Regions from separate parts of the Homo sapiens genome. Here region 1 is linked to region 2. A link means that fine-mapping ties the variant in region 2 to the expression of a gene that starts in the linked region. Tissue or cell type: lung. Region 2 holds a variant in brackets; the other region holds the start of a gene. All regions are shown on one strand. Distances are from middle to middle. Region 1 holds the start of SILC1 (sciatic injury induced lincRNA upregulator of SOX11). Region 2 overlaps SILC1 (sciatic injury induced lincRNA upregulator of SOX11).

The links. PIP is the estimated chance that this variant, and not a neighbour inherited with it, causes the effect. A credible set is the group of variants that fine-mapping cannot tell apart.
Region 1: it holds the start of SILC1, and the variant in region 2 is the best candidate, but not a certain one, in a credible set for the expression of SILC1 in lung (TOPMed, PIP 0.63).

The regions. Positions count from the first base shown.
Region 1 is chr2:5,931,070-5,933,886 of GRCh38, forward strand. It overlaps SILC1 (sciatic injury induced lincRNA upregulator of SOX11), which reads left to right and starts at 1,618. Exons shown (of 2, transcript NR_026832.1): 1 at 1,618-1,852.
Region 2 is chr2:5,937,285-5,940,101 of GRCh38, forward strand. All of the region lies in intron 1 of SILC1 (sciatic injury induced lincRNA upregulator of SOX11), which reads left to right. Among named protein-coding and RNA genes, the nearest start is that of SILC1, 6.0 kb to the left of the region's middle. The variant G/A (reference allele first, on the strand shown) is at 1,543.

The DNA.
Region 1 (2,817 bases), 6.2 kb before region 2:
TATTTAATTTTATTTTTAGTTCCACAGGTTTTTGGGAAACAGGTGGTGTTTGGTTACATGAGTAAGTTCTTCAGTGGTGATTTGTGAGATTTTGGTGCACCCACCACCTGAGCAGTATACATTTGAATCCCCCTTTAGCTTGGGCAATTGACATGATGAATTACTTTGAGTTAGACTTCCTGGTTCCTGGATTTAACACTAACCACATCTATAGCTTTGGGCAAAGTATGTACATTTTATGCATTGGAATCACCTTGTTTTATAATTGAGAGTATTTTAAATTGTTATTAAAAGGGAATACACTTTACATAGTGCCCTGAAACATGTAGATGATATAGAAAAAAATGTTTTAGAGAGTACTCTGGCATACAGTAAGTGTTCAATAAATTTTTTTTTCCCTAAGCCAAAAATCTGTCTTCTAACACAGAGATGTGGCCTTATCTTTGAAAGCATTAGCAGGACCCTGTTACATGAAGACTATGACTCCTACACAAATATAGTAAGTACTGCATATCCAGTACTGGCCAACTAGTAAGTTAGTAAGATAGTTGTGGTAGAATTAGGACCATTGAATAGAGTAATAATAACAGTTAACATTTATTGTGCAAAACCATAGATGAAGCAATGTTCCAGCTGGTTTTGCATAAATTAGCTCATTTAATTCTTAACAGCGACGCATCAGCTCATGTAACAGCAAATGTTCTCCCATCTTGTAATCGGGGATACTGAGGTGTCTACTCTGTAGAAAATTTGTCCGGGTCACAGAGCTAAGAAGGGGCAGTGAGGATTAGAAGCCTGTGAGTCTTCAGTGGTTCTAATGGCTGTATTATACTTCCTCTAAAAACCACAGGTATATGTGTTTTGGCTTAAAAATATATATTAGAATGGTGATGCTGGGAAGGACTTTGGCAATCAACCAACCTAACTGCTTGAAAGCCGGGGAGCTACTCACGTCCAGGCACCAAGTAACTTGCACAAATCTTTAAAGTTAATTTCGTGTTATTTCTGGAACTGGAACCCAGGTCTCCAGGTCTCCTTAGTCTCAGTTCTATGCTCTTATGTGTCTCTTGCATTCTTCCAACGACATGATTAATATTCCAATGTGCATTATTAATTTCCTACATGGTTACTTTTTTTTGTATCCATGTCTCCCCAGTCAACTATATCCTTTCCATATGAAGTCTTAAAGTCATATAAATTAAATGAGAACAATGTGTTATACAGGAATAAGGGAATAGTTGCTAGATTTTTTTTTTTTAAAATGATTTCAATCGATAGGTATTTACGGAAAAACACTAGACTCTTTATAAATATCTTTATGCTTAAATATATTTTAATTGGCAGCACTAATAAAAGAGAAGGACTTCAACAGAAGCCTTGGGATTAATAATTACTTTGCTAAAAATGATGAATTCTTGGCTGGCATGTTTACAGGGGTTGGGCTGTGAGTCCCTGAACGGCTGGAACCCTGGCAGAGAGGAGCCCGGAGTGTGGGAAGAGGGGCATCACAGAGAGATGCATCCTACAGAGACTGGAGGACTCCGAGCTTGGGGAAGAGACAGTTAAACCTTCCCCGTGAGAGCGAGTTATATCACGCAGCGCCAGTGCCAGGTCAGCAGTCTGGCTGGAGCTGGACCGGCTGGTGGCGCCAGGCAGTGCCAAGCACCCCTGGCAGCCCTGCAGAGGGTTCTCAAATCCAGATTTCATTCTGCAGTCCCGGCAGTGTTTTGACGACTGCCTCACTAAAGGAAGCTAAAAGCTGTGCTGATGCCTCCCAGACGAGCCTCGTTGGAAGCACAGAACCTTCACGGCTCGGAGCCGCTGACACCGTGACAAAGGGAGCCCTGCTCAGGTGAGACAAGGCTCGGGGGTTCAGATGCTGGTCGTCTGGTACAGGTCTCTGCCGTGTGCATGAGAACAAGTCCGTCTGCCAGGCTGGACGCTGCTATCAGACAGATTGATTTGCCGAGTGTCTTTCAGCATTTCCCTAATTCCTTTTTGAAAAGCAAGAGCTAGGCTGATCATGCACCTGGGTCATAAAGCCCACTCTAAAATCAGGGAGATGGCTTTAGAGAGGATCCAGCCAAGGAGAAAACTAGGTCTGACTCTCGGATGTGTCAGCAACTGCCCCGAGTCTGCTCAGTAGGTCCCCAGAGGTGATTCCTCTCCATAGTCTGTGAACTCATCATGGAATGCTGGCAATGGACTATTCCACGGGGTCTGGAGTGCTGAGTTCTAGTTCAGAACCTGTCCTAGCGGCACCAGGAAGCCCTGTGGTGTTGGGCAAATCACATAACCTCTTGGTGTTTCTGTTCTTTATTGAAAAAGATGGTTATGTATTTGCCATGACAGGTTCAAACTCCTTAGGGGTAAAATTGTGCCCTATTTACCTTTGTTTGCTGAGTCCTTGGCACAAGGCCTGGTGTTTGACACACCTAAAAATTACCCATGGACTCTGTGCTTTGGGACAGAAAAGGTGATGACAAGATGCAGGTGTAAACTTGGAAAGGCCATGAGATCTAGGTTATAGTCTCAGTGAAGTCAGCTACCCATTCAGAGCCCTGTAAAATGAATACAGCCATGTTTTGTGTTGTGTGATGACATCAGTGCAGATGTGAGCCAGACTTAGGCTCATGGTGGGCACTTCAGCAGGTGCTAGCCCTGGTGGGCTTAGCTTTGTGTATGTCAGACCCCAGTGACAGGTCTAAGGGTTGGAGAGGAGACCGGGAGTGATGTCAGGCTCTGGGATGAGGGCGTATTTGGAACAGTATGGCTGAAGCCCTGTCATGATGACCAAATTGTTCTGATGACTCTGAG
Region 2 (2,817 bases):
GTTCAAAGGTCCTGGGTTAGGTGGTGCAGGGCTTGTTTGAGGAACAGAAGGAAGGCCAGCCTGTGTGGCCCATGGCTGAGCCTAAGAGGAGGGTGTGGAGTCAGCCTAGACTGAGGCCAGGGACAGGCAGGGCCAGGTAAGGGCTTGGTATTTCTTTCAAAGTGTTCCGGGAAGCTCTGGGGAGTTTTCCAGCTGGGTAGTGCCATGCTCTCGTTTCTACTTGGGAAGATCACACTGGCTTCTCTGAAAGTGCAGATTTTATGGAGCCAGGAATGGCAGCAGTGAGACTGATGAGGAGGTTATCGTCAAGGTTCAGGCAGAACACCCTGGTGCCTTATACTGGCTTGGAAAAATCAGCTGGGAGGGGCTGCTTGGAGATCAGGCCACAGGTCACAGCGGAACTGAATGGGCCTGGTGTTGGGGTGGTGAGTGGTGGCCTGTTTAGGGAAAGCGGAAAATTAAAGAGAAGCCTTACAATTTTTTAAACATATGAGAATTTAACACCCAATCTGTTTTTCCTTCATTTTTTACTTCATTCAGGAGGAAAAGTAGACAAGAGGGAGAAATTGAGATTCAAATAATCCAACACTCAGGCAGATTGCCTGCTAGCATGCTTATCTCTCATCAGCACAGTGAGGGAGGGGCCTGTGTCACTTTACAGATGAGGCAGAGGGTCCCGCAACTCCTTAAGGGTGGAACTAGGATTGGAAACCACTCCTCCTGGCTCCTCTTTTCCTGCCAAGAGCGCTGCACCAGCTCTGGAGGAAGCCTCAGGAGAGGTTACACAAGTCTCAGCTGCCTGTGGTATTTGAGTGGCCATGGAGGATGGAATTTATGCTGCTGGAATAACTAGAGCCACTGCCCCTCATCTGCAGAGAAGACACACTATCTTGCAATTGCAGAACTCCTGTGCCTCGCTTTCGAAATTGGTCATAAGCTGGAGGCTGATGTTATCTTTCCTCACCCTTCAGACCCAAGTTCCCCAACTCCTCTCACCGCCCCCAACCACCGCTTTAATGACCGGTAAACAAGCAGCTAAATGCACCATGCACTGAGGGGCTCCAGCGAGGGGAGGAGGTGACTCTTCTGAAGAAGGGCTCCACCTGAGTTACTGAGTCAGCGAAAAGGCACCTTTATCCAGGCCTAGAGCAAAACGCAATCAGCCTTCACAGGACTGGTTTCCCAGCCATGAGCTTGGGGGACAGGGCTGGCTGCAACGGGGGCTGCCAAGGGCCCAGGTTCTGTGCTGGAAACAAGAGCACTCTGGTGGACTCGGAAATACAGCGCTGAGGTGGGTGGGCTTTAGTCGGAGCCACCTCCCCGACATTCCTGCCCCAGGCTTCTCTCCCAGGCTTTCCTTCCTGGCCCTGCCATTCTGCATTCCTTACCAACCTGCTGTATTCCCACTCTCGGCTGCCAGGAAGCCTCCTCTTCCCCCGAGCTTTACAGCGTTCATTATTTACCTTCCAGTTTGCACAGTTATATCACTGGAGTTTAAGCACACTTTCTATGTGCAGAACAAACATTCGCACATGCCACAAC[G/A]TACAGTGGGCTGTTTTGTGCCACGTGATGTGCTACTGTATGCAAATTAAAGACGAAGTTAACATTCCCTGTTGCTGGCTTTTCCAAGTGTGTGGGTATCCATTATAGACTTCAATTCTTTGTAAATATTTCAAAGGAAGAAACTCAAAGAGATGATATGAAGGTTGTGAAATTCCCCATCATAAAATCAGAAACTGATTAAACCTGGAACATGCAAAGCCAATATTGATTTCAGCAGCAAAACCAAAATCAGGACAAGCAGACAATATTTTCATAATTAAAAAAGAAAATGAGCTCATGTGAAGAGATGTTATCATCACTCGTAACTTGAAGATGCTTTTGGATACACTGCAATAATTCAGCTAACGTTAACATAAAAATGAAAGAAATTTTTCCACATCTGTATTATTAGCAAATGAATTAGGCAATTAATAATTTGTTTGCTTTAAAATGTCATTTTCATAAACACAATTTAAGCATTATATATTTATGACAATATCTTTCATTTTAAAGTTATTTTTACTTAGTGTTTATTGTATGTTAATTCGCTCTCTTTCTGTTCCTTTTTTATTGTCAAAAGTCCATATTATGTAGAGATAATTTTTGCTAGCTATTGTAATATATAATCTTGTTAGAATATATTCGTCCATAATAACAAATTATACATTTATCATAGTATGTGTTTTACAAAAAAATCTCCTTTAATGTAACCCTATTACAGAAAAAAAAATTCAGTGTTTATTATTTTGGTCCATTTTTATTTTTGTTTTTCAAAAAGTGCTTTCACAAATACAGAATAACTAATCTACTCATACTCTAAAATAAGGACTCTAGTACGGATAACTGCAGAAGCATAGATCGAAAAATCACTTATATTGCCTGAGGGAGATGGTTAGGAAACAGTACTGAGATAAGATATAATTTAAAATGGGTTTTGAAGAATGCATAGGAGTTCATCAGGCTGTAAAGGAAGAGAAGGACATATCATAGTGTACAGCCTACAGAAGCAAAAATCTAAATAGAGAAGTATATAGTATACAGTGTCAGAACAGTAGGAGCTAGAAGTAAAAAATACGAAATCTGTGCAGTGCAACAAAAGCTATAACCCCCAAAAAAGGCTGCACGTTAATAAACACAAAAGGAGGCCGGGTGAGGTGGCTTGTTCATGCCTGTAATCCGTGCACTTTGGGAGGCCAAGGCGGGAGGATCACTTGAGGTCAGGAGTTTGAGACCAGCCTGACCAACATGATGAAACCCTGTCTCTATGAAAAATAC